Linked DNA regions of Homo sapiens: region 2 is linked to region 1. A link means that fine-mapping ties the variant in region 1 to the expression of a gene that starts in the linked region. Tissue or cell type: whole blood. Region 1 holds a variant in brackets; the other region holds the start of a gene. All regions are shown on one strand. Distances are between the middles of the regions.

Region 1 (8,348 bases):
CAGCTTAGTTGTCTCAGAGGACTCACAATGGGATGTGCTTATAGTTGTTGCCTCGAAGGTATGTATGTTCATTTCCATCTTCTGACTGCAATTTCTTCAGATAAGCCAGTTTTCCTGTACGTTAAATGTCATTCTGATTTTTTTTTATTTCCCCAGCTCCTATTTGTCTACAGATTTATAAATATGTTTCAGAGTTTTATTACTCAATTTGTGTTTTTTTATTCTTCTATCAAGATTTTTGCCTCAAATACTTTTCTCTAGAAAATACACTGCTTCCAATGCCAATTTTTTTTTTTTTTTTTTTTTTTTTGGAAGAGTCTTGCTCTGTTGCCTAGGCTAGAATGCAGTGGTGTGATAATGGCTCACAGCAACCTCCACCTCCCAGGTTTAAGCAATTCTCCTGCCTCAGCCTCCTGAGTAGCTGGGATTACAGGCATCCGCCACCACGCCTGGCTAATTTTCGTATGTTTAGTAGAGACAGGGTTTTACAATGTTGGCAAGGGAGGTCTTGAACTTCTGACCTCCTGATCCACCTTCCTTGGCCTCCCAAAGTGATGGGATTATAGGCATGAGCCACAGAGCCTGGACTTTTCTTTTCTTTTTTTTTTTTGGCAGAGTCTCATTCTGTCACCCAGGCTGGAGTGCAGTGGCACAATCTCAGCTCTTTGCAACCTCTGCATCCCAGGTTCAAGCGATTCTCCTGCCTCAGCCTCCCAAGTAGCTGGGACTACGGGTGCCTGCCACCATGCCTGGCTAATTTTTGTATTTTTAGTAGAGACAGGGTTTCACCATATTGACCAGGCTGGTCTTGAACTCCTGACCTTGTGATCTGCCCACCTTGGCCTCCCAAAGTGCTGGGATACAGGTGTGAGCCACCACACCCGGCCTCCCCCGCCACACACACTCTTTCATAGACTAGATACAGAATAAACTGCTGAAAAATCCACTGGGGGGCCACATTTTCAGTTAATTCCCATTAATTGCTTCTTCAGAATGGTTCAGTTGAAGGGAAGTTTATTCTTGGCACAGCCATCAAGTGGTAGTTAGTTTGGAAGGTCCTAAGTTCCGAACTACCTTGGGGGCCAAGCAGAACTTGGTCCCTTGCTGTGGTCAGTTGGTCATGGAGGGGTGCTCACTGCCAGACAGCTGACAATACAGGGCAATGGGTAGGATGACCAGACATTTGAATTTGTTCCTCAGAGAGGCTTCGTTTGCAGGAAAGTGCCATATTTTAGCCCAGGAGTTAAAACCTAGAGACAGGAGTTTTGTTTTGTTAAATGATTTGGCTTTTTTCTGGACTCACCACCTCTTCCAAATACATCAACCTTCCTGAAGAGCCCTTGGTGCAGGAGGATTGAGAAAGGGAGTGGAAAGAGCTCCAGGTTCAGGGTCCAGGCCATGATTTAGAGGCCTCAGGTATTCAGGGATCTCTGTCCCCAGAAAACCAGCCAAATTCTTGTCCCAGATCTATCATTCGTCAGTGTTGTGACCCTAGGCAGGTCGCTTCAAATCTCTTCATTTCACTTCCCTGAACCGTCACCTCTGAGTGGCAGCCCCTGCTCTGCCCATCTCTCTGGGCCTATGTGGGCATCACAGGAAATTCAAACAAAAACTTTTCACGAGTTCTAAAGCATGAGACCCATGTCAAGAATGAAAAGAATTTTAGCCTCCACTGCCCTGGAGTCCCCCAAGTGGCTTCTCTATTAACCACTACCAAGGGCCTGGCTTATTCTTCCAGACATGAAATAATTGAACACTTTATGGCACTTAGGAAGCACCCGTTTTAAGGCTTTAGGTCCATTTAACTATTCTTACCCTTTTAACATAACGTAGGCCATTAGGAGGCACAGAGGGATCTATAGAACTTCCTCAGGTTCTAGCAGCTTCTCAGAAGTCCCTGAGCTCAGATCCTATGCTCCGGACCCTATGCTCTTGGTCACTCCAATCTACTACCTTTCTGTAATGTCTCATCTCAATACAGGCATTTGCCTGCACACTTATACGTGCAACCCACAGTGCAAGTCTTTCTGAAGCCCAACTCAGATTCAGGGGGCTTTGCTCTGCAGATGATGAACAATGGAATCAAACATTTAAGCTGTGAATAAATAATTACTCATTTCTCTGATCTTTTGCGGCAAGACACCAACACCTGTCTTTATTTTAATTCATTTCCCAGTGTGTTGTGGCGAGGATGAAATAGTGTATCCTAGGATGCCAGGGGAATCCACCGTCTGCCACCGCGAGCGTGAGAAGCCAATCACCTATCACTGGTATCACTGGCATCCCGGCCATATATACCCTAGAGTTGCATCAATGGAAGGTGTTGTGGAAATTCAGTCATTCAGTTCATTCATGATATGATTTCTAGATTCTTCAGTGTCTCATATTTCAGACAATTATAAAATTGCGATGCTATATTCTTTATTTCATGTGTGCATATTTAAATGTGTTAAGTCAATCACTAGTGCTACAACCAGAGGAGTAAAGGTGTATTTCCATTCCAGATTTGGGTTTACTTTTAATAGTAAATAACATCTCAGTGCAAATTGTAGACATTTTGCTGATTGTTAAAACATTAATTAAAAAGGATCTTTTTCTGAGACAGTGTTGCCAGGTTTGTAAAGTAATGGACATCACTTCAAACTGTTTGGAAGTAACCGAAAAATGGAGGAAGTGGCAACAAAACTTTCCATATACCCACCTTCCTCAGTATTTTTTGGTGATCCCATCTTTGTGAGTGTGATAACGCTCGTAACAATGACTGAGCCAATAGTGATACATTCTTATGAACAGAAGTCCAAGGTTAGCATCAGTGACTGAGCCAATAGTGATACATTCTTATGAACAGAAATCTAGGGTTAGCATCAAGGTTCACTCTGTGTTGTCCAGCCTATGGGTTTTGACAAACTGACAATGTCTTTTGTCACCCTGACGGAATAATTTCACATCCTACACATGACCTGAGCTGCATCTACTAATTCCTCTCCTTTTCTGAGGATTCCTGACAACTATGGATGATTTTACTGCCTCTATAGGTTTCCTTTTCCAGAATTGTATAGAGTTGGAATCATAGAGTATGTAGCTACGTATAACTAACTTATTTTACTTAGCAATATACATGTAAGATCTTTTGTATCGTTTTGAAGCTTAACAGCTTAATAATTCTTATCAGTGAACAATAGTCCATTGGTTTCATCGAACAGGGTTAGTTGGTTCACTCACTGCCTGAAGACCATCTGAGCTGCTTCCAATTTGGGTAATTATGAATAAAGCTGCCCACATTCTTGTGCAGATTTTAAGATGAACATAATTTTCTAATTTAGCTGGGTAAATATGTAGAATTTTGATCACTTGCTG[G/T]TAAGACTATGTTTTCCATTGTGTTAGGCAGAATTCACCAGTACAATTATGTGGGCATTTTTTTTTAAGTTATTACTTCCTGATTAAATTCTATAATGATAGAGGCCTACTCAGATTATCTATCTCTCCTTTGGGTGGTTATGGTAGTTTCTCCCTTTGAAGGCATTTGTCCATTTCATCTAAGCTAGGAAATTTGTGGGTGTAGACACTTGAATCTGACAAGTTGCCTGCTTGGTTCTCATCAAAGGCTACTGTGCTTCCTGTCATTCCTACTCTCAAACTTTTCAATAGACTTTCACTCCTGCACTTAAAAAATTGCAGGCATAGATTTGTTGAAAGTATTCTGTTATTATTTTCTTAATGATTATGGGATCAGCAAGGATAATTCCTCTTCTATTCATATTGTTTGTACATCGTGTCTTCTGTATTTTCTTTGTGATTAGCCTTGCTGGAGGTTTACCAATTCTATTGATCTTTTCTAAGAAGCAGCTTTTGGTTTTGTTGAGTTTCTTTATTTTATTATTTCTATTACATTGATTTCTGCAAATATTGTTATATTTTGGGGGAGGAGTGTTGCCTGGTTTACATTACACTACACTTTTTTCTCTAGTTTCCTAAGGTGGAAAGTAAGACATCTGGATTTGGATTACATTTAGTTTACTGCACAGAATTGTGAATGGCACTGATGCCCCTGAAGTGTGCACTTGATTATTAAAATAATAAATATGATGTATTTTGGCCACAATACTGATTTTAAAGCCAATTAAATGGATGATAAGTACAGGAGGAGCATATGTAGATCAAGGAAAGATAAATGACATTATAACATTTCAACAACAAAAGAAATTTACCGGGCCTCAAAATGCACAAGGGGGTGATGGGACACTGTCATGAAATCAGCAGTGCATTTGTGTGCCACCCTGTGTGAACTCTGCCTTTTTTGCAGTGGTGTGGGGGCTTAGCCAGAGAACCAGGTCCTGACTTCTGTGGCTTCCTGATGGTCTCATTTGCCTTCCCTCATCACCCAGGAGGGTGTCCCAGTGGCAGCCAAGTTTCTACCCTTAACCCACCTCCTTTACACATGCCAGCCCCCTGTCCTTAGCATCCAAGGTTGCCTAAGGGATTCCTTCAGTGGAACCAACATGATGACAGTTACTCTGTGTTTCCTAGATTACGATGAGGACCTGGTGCAGGAAGCTTCATCTGAAGATGTCCTGGGCGTTCATATGGTAAGTTCTTCTTTATGTTTCTGAGATGGAAATTTTGTTGCTCTTGGTTCTTTTTTATTTTATTTGAATTGAGATATGAAAATCTTACCATGTACATTATAGATGACTTACAGAATATTTTGGTGGGAAAATGTGAGGGTCATTACCAGGTAAGAAATGATCTCAGATGGCATTCTTAGATGACACCTTCAGTTATGAACTGTATGGCAGAAAGAATTTTTGTTAGGGGAAAAGCTTTCTTCTTACAACATTGTGACTATACAACCAAAACAATCTTGAAAGTCTTGCATAAAAATCTTGTGCCTTTCCAGAAGTGTCTTCGAGGCTTTAGGACCATTGCCTCAACCACTGTCTCCCATCTGCTTTTCTAATGTCACCAAGTAAAGAAAAGACTTGTATGGTGAAACCCCATCTCTACTAAAAATACAAAAATTAGCTGGGCATGCTGACCGGCTACTGTAATCTCAGCTACTGGGGAGGCTAAGGGAGCAGGATCGCTTGAGGCCAGGAGGCGGATGTTGCAGTGAGCCATGATCATAACACTGTACTCCAGCCTGGGTGACAGAGCGAAATTCCAGCAAAGAAAGGGAGAGAGGAAGGGAGAGAGGGAGTAGGGGAGAGAGAGAGAGAGAGAGAGAGAGGCAGGAAGGAAGGAAGAAGGGAAGGGAAGAAGGAAGAGAAAGAAGGAAGGGAAAGAAAGAAGGAAGGAAAGAGAAAAAGAGAAAGAAAGAAAAAGAAAGAAAAGAAAGGAAAGAAAGAAGGAAGGGAGGGAGGGAAAAGGAAAACCTGTGCACACAGGACACAGCATGGTCTGACCCTTGTAGTGTTTTGTTTTTCTCTAAATGCAGGTGGACAAAGACACAGAGAGAGACAGTACGTATTCTGGAATCACCCCTATGCTGAGGAAAAATTCTAGTGTTGACAAAGGTGACACTTTCTTGCCTCATTTTTTCTGGAGAGCCACTCTGGTTTGAACTTCCTGCCAGAAATGTGGTTCAAGCACTTTTGTCTTGACAAGTGAAGAACCTGGTCAAGAAATGTGACCGTTGACTCTGGTGCTTGGAAGGAACAGGGTCATTTGGATAGAAGAGGGTGTTGTGAATCAGAGTTGGGAGGTATGGAGGAATGAGTCAATGTGGAATGATTGTGAATGTCTCTGCGAGTTTGTGTGCTTTTCCCCAGAAAATACGTTCCCATATGCAAAGCACAACACAAAGATTGATATTCTAGAAACAAAATTTGATCACCACTGCATTTTTGCAAAAAATCAACCCATTCATTCCTCACCACAGCTGTAGCTGAAGGTAAGTTTAATATCCCAAGTCCTCACATGGAGATGATGTAGAGATGAATTTTTCAGGCTTTTGGTCTCCTAAATGGAAATGGCATAGATGAACTCGGGAATGGGTGGAAGGGTGATGCTGTGGGCTACTAGTCTGAAGTTATAACATGGCCCTGGTGTAACTTGTCACCATGTCAGAGAGTCCTTAGCATCTATGTGTATGTGGAAGTATGTTGGCCTATAAAGATCTCCAGCACTGTATACCACAATAGAATGGTCTCAATGGTCAGCTGACCCAGAGTTTGAGTAGGTTCATTGTACAGTGAACTTGGGTGCGGTCATTAATATGAAACATACAGAGGGAGCTGCCAGGCCTTTGGTCTTAAGTGATGGGGTATTCCTCAGTTCCTGGTCAAGGGCAGAGAACATTCAGAGATATATTCTATTATATTTAATGAGATCATCACCACAAACGTTAGAAATGCTCCAATTCAGTAGCACACATACCCAAGACACAGCACCCAACAAGATCTCACAGAGCCAATTGGCTGTTAGCCTGGTGCCCATCTTGTCTGCTGGAATCTCTGCACAGCTGGGTAACAGAGGGTCAGCGCTCCCACCTGCTGTCACCCATGAAGGGCTGTCCCATTCCTGGAGCCAGTGTGAGTATGAGCAACAGCGGGCCCCATGACACACACACACAGTGTTAAAAGAAAGAGCAGAAGGACAAATATCACAGGCTAAGTAGAGGTCATCTTTAAATGGTAGGATAATTGAGTATTTTCAAATCTTGGTTTAGTCTTCTTTGAAACAAAGGTTAGTGAATATGTAGAATATTTTGGCTAGAATTATATCACCTCTTTGAAGAAAGGTTGCTTTTTACCTCGTACAAAATGTTCTGGCTGGAGACGGTGGCTCATGCCTGTAATCCCAGTGCTTTGGGAGGCCAAGGAGGGTGGATTACCTAAGGTCAGGAGTTCAAGACCAGCCTGATCAACATGGAGAAACCCCATCTCTACTAAAAATACAAAATTAGCTGGGCATGGGAGCACATGTCTCTAATACCAGCTACTCAGGAAGCACATGTCTTTAATACCAGCTACTCAGGGAGCACATGTCTGTAATACCAGCTACTCAGCTACCCATTCATCGTCCACCACAGCTGTACCTGAAGATAAGTTTAATATCCCCAGTCCTCAGATGGACATGCTGCAGAGTTGAATTTCCCAAGCTCTTGGTCTTTTAAATGGAAGAGACACATGTGAACTCGGGAATGAGTGGAAGGTTAATGCCATGGGCTACTACACTGAATTTGTCACAAAGCCCTGGTATAATTTCTTGCTAGGCCAAGTTATTCCAGCACTTCTGTGTGCTGGAAGAATGAAAACCTATTCAGATCCCAAACACTATCATTATCGGATGGTCTCAATGGTCAGCTAACCCAGGGTTTGTTTGAGTAGGTACATTGCACTGTGGGCTTTAGTGTGATCATTAATGTAAAACACACAGAGTCCTCAGGCTTTTGGTCTACAGCGTTGAGGTCATTCCTCAGCTCCTGTTCAAAAGCAGACAATAATCAGTGACATACTCTATTGTATTTAAGGAGATAATCACCACAAGTCTTAGAAATTCAGTGGAAACCAATCCCAACACATAGCATCCAATAAAATCTCAAGACTCAACTTGGGTGTTAGCCTGGCACCCATTTTCCCTGATGGAATCTCTGCACAGCTGGGTTGGAGAGGGTCAGTGCCCACCCCTTGCCCCGCCTCGCTGCTCCCCATGACAGACTGTCTCTGTGCTGGAGTCAGTGTGAGCATGAGCAGCAGTGAACTCCATGGTGCACACACATGGTGTTGAAAAGGAAGAGCGGAAGAACAAATATCACATGCTAAGTAGGGGTCATCGTTAAATGGTAGGATAATAGAGTATTTTCAAATCTCTGTTTATTTGCCTTGTAACAGAAAGTTAGTAATAAAATCTTTTGGCTAGAATTAAATCTCCTATTTTAAGAAAGGTTACTTCTTGTTTAGTACAAAATCTTCTAGAAGGGATGATAAACAGATCAGCAGCACATGTGGATTCTGAGGAGGAAATGACTTTGGCAGGGATCAATAAGAGGGCAAGTTAGCTCAGGTCAGATTAGGAAGGAGGAGCCCTAAGAGGCTGCCAGGGACACACAGCCTGCACTGCTGGTGTGCACTGTTTGAGATTGGCTATTATATGTTTATGAGGCGGCCTGGAGCTAGGAAGCCAAAGGCCCTGATTCCCTTTCTTCCTGCATCTCTCCTGTGCCTGCTACCCTCCTCCCAAGCCCACCTCAAGCAGTGTTACTGAATTGTTCATGAGCGCCACCACCAAGGTGCTGACGGTCACTCTGTATCCTCCTAGTTGAGATGAAACGGCAACTACGGCGACTACGGGAGCTCCACCTATACAGCACATGGAAGAAGTACCAAGAGGCGATGAAGGTCAGGCCA
Region 2 (8,000 bases), 330 kb after region 1:
CAGTATCCTGCACCCTCTTGTGCAATTACTCATGACCCCCAGGGTCCGTGTGTACCCCCTTACCAGGCTCCGTGTCCTATTCAGCTCCTCAGGGCTCCAGCACGGAATGGGTGAGCAGTAACTATTGGCTAAATGGAAGTTGAATTGTTGTTTTGAGGCCTGCTGTTATCTGCAAGGCTCTCAGAAACTGCTGTGCCTCCTAGCAAAAAGCCATGGAGGCCACATGAGGTTAATAGGCAGATGGACAAATAGCCCTTCACCAGCCAGACAGGGCTGTGAGCAGCGACAGTGTGTTTGGCCTGGGGACTCAAGGGAAGGGTACTTAATCCCATGGAAATAATCCCCGGGTGACATAAATCATAATTGACTTTGCTTTCAGAGTCAACCAGTGATTGATTCCAACCAACTCTGTCAGCTGTCACTCCCATTCCTTCAGATAAGGCTTCTCCTGCATGGGTGTCCTGGCCCCTAAATCACAGTGGGACCAATAGCATTTCAGTGGCAGCATCTTCTGCAAAGGGGCTTCTTCTGCTGGGGTGTCTCCTCTAGCAGGGCCTCACGTTACCAGGGTCTATTCCCTGTGATGCCGGTCTGTACATTTGGCCTTCTCGAGAATTTGCACCACCCTACTCCGCCCTGACCAACCCCAGTCTCAGACCCCACATCTACACACAGCTGCCTGGGGTCTACCCTGACCTTCAGAAAGTCTCTCTGCCTCAGCCTCGAGAGTGTTCCTCTGGACATGCAGTTTCGGCCTCCTTAAGAGTCCACACACACCTACACAGCATTCCAAGTACCTGTTCCCACAGTGCTCTCCACCCACCCACTGCCCATCTACCACCGGGAGTCCACACTCACAGGCCAGCAGAACAGGACTGAGACAGAGACACGTCCCAGGGATAAACCCCTGAGGGTTTGCTTCCCTCAGCTGCCTGACCCATTTTGGAACAAGGGCAGAGAGGGTCCAGAACATTCCTGTGAGCTTACGAGGCCCAGCGGGGGAAATGGGCTTGCCCAGAACTGACAGGCAAGTCAGAGCCAGGCCTGGTGCTCAGAAAACTGGGTGTGAAAATGGAAACCTACCCAAGGCTGATGAATGGAAACAAAGTGTCCATCATCCAGATCACCCAGGGCCACAGATCCAGCCAGAGAGGAGGGGCTCCCTGTGGCTCCAGCACAGGCCTACACCAGATACCTCTTTCCCCAGGGGCAACTGAGCCCAGTGTCAGCACAGAGATTGCTAATCTGAGGACCCCAACATCTAAGAGAAGGTGCCTCAGAGGTACTGACTGGCGGCCGCTGCTAAGCCAGCTTTTGCCCAGCTCTCAGCAGGCCAGGGCGCTTTTTCTCTGCCCCATCCAGGCTCCTGGCACACATCCCTGGTCAGGGGAAGATTACCTGTTCAGCACTGCATAGGCTGAGAAGGTCAGATCAATTCTAGCCCATCTGGCCATCCACTGAGCCGCCATCCCTCAACACCTCCCTGCTCCCCGATCCAACTAAGGAGGGCAGCTGAGCCTTTGCAGAGTCAGCAGGTATGCGCCTGGGAGACCCTCAGAAGGCTGTATCCCCGGCACCTCCCTGGAAGAAGCGAGCGTGTCATTGTTTCTCTCCCTGTCACCTCTGGTCTGAGGCCAATTTGTGCCCCACCCCTGCCAAGGACAGAACTTGCCATCCAGACTGTAAGTCCCTGGAGCCCCACCATCCTGGGAGAGGCCACAACCTGCTCAGCTCCCTCAGGCATCTGGCTGCCCTCAGCCTGAATCCCATCTTTTCTCTCCTGAGGTTCTCACAATGGCTCCCCTCAGCAGGACCTCCCCACAAGGCCTCCCTCCTCTTCCCTGCACCCCGACCCCAACAGGCCCCAGTGAGCCAGACTGAGGAAAAGGGTGGTCTCACAGAGGTGTGGTCCAGTGAATACTGGTGCATTAACTGGGGCAGGCATTTCTTAGGAATTCCCTGGGACACGGCAGATTCTGTATTGAGGTGCTGGAAGCTTCCACTTCAGAAGCCCTCCATTGCTGTCTCAGATAGGTGGCAAAAGACCCCATGCTTCTCACCCCACATCCTATCTCCTGCCAGGGAGGTGACTGCTATAGAATCTTTTTTTTTTTTTTTTTGAGACAGGGTCTCACTCTGCTGCCCAGGCTGGAGTACAGAGACGTGATCACAGCACACGGCGACCTACCTACACCTCCCGGGCTCAAGCTATGCTCCTGCCTCAGCCTTCCCGAGCAGCTGGAACTACAACTACAGCTACATGCCACCATGCCTGGCTAATTTTTGTATGTTTTGTAGAGATGGGGTTTCACCATGTTGCCCAGGCTCCACAGCATTTGAAAGAGCATGGAGCCCAGAGTTGGGAGGCGTGGGATCAAGTCCTAGATTGGTCATTCCTGGCTGTGTGACTCTGGGCAAGATACTCAGATTCTCTGGGCCACCGGTTTCTTGCATGTTACAAAAGCCTGGTTACATTTCTCATATCAAGGAGATACAGAGTTGCTTCAAACTCCTCAGCCACAGGAACTGTCTTATTCATTTCTGTATCCCCAGCGTCCTGACACACAGTAGGTGCTCAGTAAACGTTGAATGGATACAAACATGACTGTGAAGAGCCTTGTAAACATCATTAACCAAAATATGTCTATATGTATATATGTTAGCACTTACTACAACAGGCCCATAAACCTTTCCAAAATGACATCAACAGGAAGTAAAACCTGTTTTGGATGTACCCATGAAGGTGATATCTACTTTTTTACTAAATATTTTACAAAATCATTCTTGCTAGCCAGAACCAGGGCAGAAACATCATTGATAAAGATGATTTCACAGGGACTAGGCCCTGAACACTGAGGTCTGAAGCCAATCACAGTAAATCATAATAGCCCCGGACCACCTTTGGAAAACCATTAAGTCGACAACTACAAAACCCTGAAGGGCCCTACCGCATCTGACTGATGCCTCTTTGTGGCCCACACTCCGGTGTCTAACTCAGAGCCAGACACTTGGTAGGCAGTGTGGTCAGGTGGAGAGGGCTTCAAGTCCGACAGGAACAGGTTTAAATTCACGGCCAGGTGTGGTGACTCACACCTGTAATCCCAACACTTTAGGAGGCAGAGGTGGGAGGATTGCTTGAGCCCAGGAGCTCAAGACCAGTCTGGGCAACATAGCGAGACCCCATCTCAAAAAAAGGAAAAGAAAAAATATATATGTAAAAGAAAAAGAAACAGGTTTAAATTCTTGATCTGCCACTTACTAGTTATTTCAATAGCATACTCCCTTGAGCCTCAGTTTTACCATCTCTGAAATGGGTTCAATCACGTGTATGAAGTGATTAAATGTAACCAAGGCGCTTAGCCCAGCGACTGCCGAATGCCAGGCGGTCACCGGGGAAGGTTAGTGAGTTCCTGGAGCACCCAGGATCCTCTTTTTTCCCAGCTGCAGGAGAGAGCTAAGCCTGAGGGGCCAGGAGGGCTGTGTTCTGCCCACACCTGCACACTTAGCTGGGAGCCTGGGACACCCAGGCTATTAGGAGGCTCAGGAGGGACTCTCAAAACTGAGGTGGGGTTGGATTCCAGAGCCGGGCAGTGGGGAAGCTGGCCTGGGGATGAAATGTCATGACCGAATTCCTGTCCCGGGAGTCACCAGATCCACAGCCCCAGGCGAGGCCTCATCCCCAGCTCGGAAGTCCTACATGGAGATCTCCAAGAAGATTCTTCCCCACGTCTCCCAGCTCCTGCCCCGGGTGGCCTAGAGCAGGCTCTCTTCCCTGTGCCCCTGGGCCCCGGCCGGGGTCCCCCGGGTGCGCGCCCTGAGCCCCTCTCCAGGCCCCGCGCTGACTCACCCCCACTCGTGGGGCCCGGCTGCGCGGGGGCCGCATGGCTGCCGGCAGGTGCCCCGAAGCCCTCGTCGTTCTCTATGCCTGCAATCTCGCTCTCCTGCTGGGCCAGGAAGGCGGCCGCCGGGTCCTCCTCCGCCGCCTCCGGGGCACCGCTCTCCGACGACGAGAAGAAGCCAAAGTCATCAGCCATTTTCCCCGCGCCTCCGCCGGAGCCTCCGCTGCGCTCGGCTCTGCCCGCGCCTGCCCCGCGCTGCGTCCGGCGGCCGCGACGCTGTCACCCGAGCCGCGGGGGAGCCGGCGTCGGCGGGGACGGGCTTGGCGCGGACCGCACTTCCTCTCCGCCACCGGGCCCGGCTGGCTGTCACTGCGGTGCGGGCGCCGCGGCGGGAGGAGCGGAGCCGGAATGCGGTGACGTCACCGCGGGGGCGGGGCCGCAGGGCCGGGAGGTCGCCGAGCAGCGGCCGCAGGAGGGCGCCTCAGGACTGGGCGCAGCGCTGGGCCCGGGACCGGCGCGGCGCTTCCCTCCCTCCGCAGCGGCGCCCAGCTGCTCGCGTCGAGGACACCTGGGCTAGGCACTGCTCCCGCCCGGCCTGGAGGCGAAACGCAGGGCACAGAGTGGCCGTACCGTGCACAGAGCTGCGACAGGAGGCCACCTCTGGCCTCGGGAGCGCAGACCTGGCTCCTGATTCATTCTGCAGAAGTTTCTTCTCCTAGGTTGGGATGTCATGCACCTCATTCTATGAGCCTCCGCCTCTGTAAGAAGAGGAAAATTGAGGCTGGGAAAGGCTGCCCCGCACCTTTTCATGCAAGTCCAGGTCCTTTCCCACTAGGCCGTGTTGTTTTGTGTATTTTTTTGTGTATCTCCCTTGAGGAGGCTTCAGTTCATACGACCAGAGTTTGGATGGCCAGCTAGGCCCCTTAAATGTCCTTTAGGTATGAACCAGCCTGAGAAAGGCAGACCTGGTTTACCCAGGCAGCCTACCACTCTCCACGCTGCCCGCTGCCCTCTGTGAACAGGCTCTGAATGCCTCCTCCCTGCCTGCGCTTTGCCAAGCACCAGGACAGCAACGTTTTATAAAATCCAGCCATGGCCATGCGGAGATTACAATCCGGTGAGACCAACAGATGGCAAATGGCCTGTCAAAGCACTGTGTGTGAGGCGCTGTGACATTTAAACACGGGGTATAGGGAGACGATGCAAAGAAACACCATGGGATTTGGGCTGTCTGCTATTTCTAATGTGGGACTTGAAAGGCAACTATGAAATATGGACTGGAAGAGCGAAAGGAAAGATGTGCCGCCAAGTTGGGGGTGGAAGTGGAGTTGGGGTGAAGGGACCTTCCAGGTGTTTTTTTTTTTTTCTTTTTAATTTTTTTATTTAGAGACAGGGCCTCGCTATATTAACTGGGCTGGTCTTGAACTGCTGGCCTCAGGGGATCCTCCTGCCTTGGTCTCCCAAAACACTGGGATTACATGTGTGAGCTACCAAGCCCAGCTGGAACTTTCAGTTTAATTGGTAACAACTTGAGCACCTTTTGATGTTACTGTTTTTGGGGGGGTTTTTATTGTTTTATTTAATTAAATTAATGTATTTATTTATTGCTGTCCATTTGCATGGTTTTGTTGTTGTTGTTTGTTTGTTTTTTGTTTTGAGACAGGATCTTACTCTTGCCCAGGCTAGAGTGTAGTGGTACGATTATAGTTCACTACAGCTTCAACTCCTGGGCTCAAGTGATCCTCTCATCCTCAGACTTCCAAAGAGCTGGGATTACAGGCATGAGCCAACACACCTGGCCTTTTTGATGTTATTGTAAGTGGAAGTTTTATCTTCTTTTTTGATTGCGTATTGTTAATGCATAGAAATTTAACTGATTTTTGTGCATTGGCTTTGTATCCTGCTGCTTTGCTGAATTCATTTATTAGCTCTAACATTTTTTGTGTGTGGAATATTTAGGGTTTTCTGCAGATAAGAGCTTATTAGCCAGGTGCCATGGCTCATACCTGTAATCCCAGCACTTTGGGAGGTGGAAGTGGGTGGATAGATTGAGCCCAGGAGTTTGAGACCAGTCTGGACAACGTGGCAAAACCCCATCACTACTAAAACTACAAAAAATTAGCCAGACATGGTGGTATGGTGCCCGTAGTCCCAGTTACTCAGGAGGCCGAGGTGAGGGAATCACCTGAGCCCGGGAAGTCAAGGTTGCAGTGAGCTATGATTGTGTCAGAGGTGTGTGAATCAGAGCAAGTCCGTCGTAAACAGGATCTGGGTAAAATGAGGCTGAAACCTACTGGGCTGCATTCCCAGACGGTTAGGGCATTCTAAATCACAGGATGAGATAGGAGGTCAGCACAAAATACAAGTCATAAAGACCTTGCTGATAACACAGTTTGCAGTGTTGGGCAAGGTGGCCCACGCCTGTAATCCCAGCACTTTGGGAGGCCAAGGTGGGCGGATTGTGAGGTCAGGAGTTTGCGACCAGCCTGGTCAATATAGTGAAACCCCGTCTCTACTAAAAATACAAAAAATTAGCTGGGCATGGTGGCAGGTGCCTGTAATCCCAGCTACTTGGGAGGCTGAGGCAGGAGAATTGCTTGAACCCGGGAGGCGGAGGTTACAGTGAGCCGAGATCTCACCACTGCACTCCAGCCTGGGTGACAGTGCAAGACTCAGTCTCAAAAAACAAACAAACCAACAAACAACAACAACAAAAACCAGGTTGCAGTAAAGGAGCCAGCCAAAACCCACCAAAACCAAAATGGTGACAAGAGTGACCTCTGGTCATCCTCACTCCCACCAGTGCCAGGACAGTTTACAAATGCCATGGCAACATCAGGAAGTTACCCTATACGGTCTAAAAAGGGAAGGCACGAATAATCCACCCCTTGTTTAGCATTTCATCAAGAAATGGCCATGAAAATATGCAACCAGCAGTCCTTGGGGCTGCTCTGTCTATGGAGTAGCCATTCTTCTATTCCTTTACTTTCTTTTTCTTTTTTTGAGGTGGAGTCTCGCTCTGTTGCCCAGGCTGGAGTGCAGTGGTGCGATCTCGGCTCACTGCAAGCTCCACCTCCCGGGTTCACGCCATTCTCCTGCCTCAGCCTCCCAAGTAGCTGGGACTACAGGAGCCTGCCACCATGCTCAGCTAATTTTTTTTTTTTTTGTATTTTTAGTAGAGACGGGGTTTCACCCTGTTAGCCAGGATGGTCTCGATCTCTTGACTTCATGATCTGTCCACCTCGGCCTGCCAAAGTGCTGGGATTACAGGCGTGAGCCACCGTGCCCGGCCCCTCCTTTACTTTCTTAATAAACTTGTTTTCGCTTTGCACCAAGGACTCACCCTGAATTCTTTCTTGCGTGAGATCCAAGAACCCTCTCTTGGGGTCTGGATTGGGACCCCTGTCCTATAACAATCACACCACTGCGCTCCAGCCTGGGCAATGAGAGTGAGACCCTGTCTCTAAATAAATAAATAGCATCTGCAAACAGAGATACTTCTTACTTTCCAATCTGGGTTGCTTTTATTTCTTTTTCTTGCCTAATTTCTCTGGCTAGGACTTCCAGTACTATGTTGAATAGAAATACCAAAAGTGGGCATCCTTCTGCACAAGTTGTCCAAATCAAACTGGAGTCACTTATGCCAAACCCTAGCAAAATGGACTCAGGAGGCCATAAATGAGGGGCTCCCATGCACACATGCCTATGATAGAAAATATTACAAGGACTGTCTGAGGCTGGGCACGGTGGCTCATGCCTGTAATCCCAACACTTTGGGATGCTGAGATGGGCGGATCACCTGAGGTCTGGAGTTCAAGACCAACCTAACATGATGAAACCCCGTCTCTACTAAAAATACAAAATTAGCTGGGTGTGGTGGCACACACCTGTAATCCCAGCTACTCAGGAGGCTAAGGCAGAAGAATTGCTTGAACCTGGGAGGCAGAGGTTGCAGTGAGCCGAGATTGCCCCATTGTACTCCAGCCTGGGCAACAAGAGCAAAACTCCGTCTCAAGAAAAAAAAAAAAACCCAACAACAACAACAACAAAAAACAAGGATTGTCTGAAACCACAATCTTGCACAAAGGCCGTCACACCCATGCACGAAGAATATTTCTGCAATGACACCTGCCCAGCAATTGCCTGTTCAATCTTGGAATA

Evidence for each region. PIP is the estimated chance that this variant, and not a neighbour inherited with it, causes the effect.
Region 2: it holds the start of CLTB, and the variant in region 1 is fine-mapped to the expression of CLTB in whole blood (TOPMed, PIP above 0.99).

Annotation. Positions count from the first base shown.
Region 1 is chr5:176,084,936-176,093,283 of GRCh38, forward strand. It overlaps the pseudogene FAM153B. Among named protein-coding and RNA genes, the nearest start is that of THOC3-AS1, 120 kb to the left of the region's middle. The variant G/T (reference allele first, on the strand shown) is at 3,358.
Region 2 is chr5:176,412,330-176,420,329 of GRCh38, forward strand. It overlaps CLTB (clathrin light chain B), which reads right to left and starts at 4,210. Exons shown (of 6, transcript NM_007097.5): 1 at 3,848-4,210. The coding sequence starts at 4,034. It also overlaps a transcript of ARL10 not described here. RefSeq lists silencers at 3,713-3,792, 3,903-4,002, 4,043-4,502.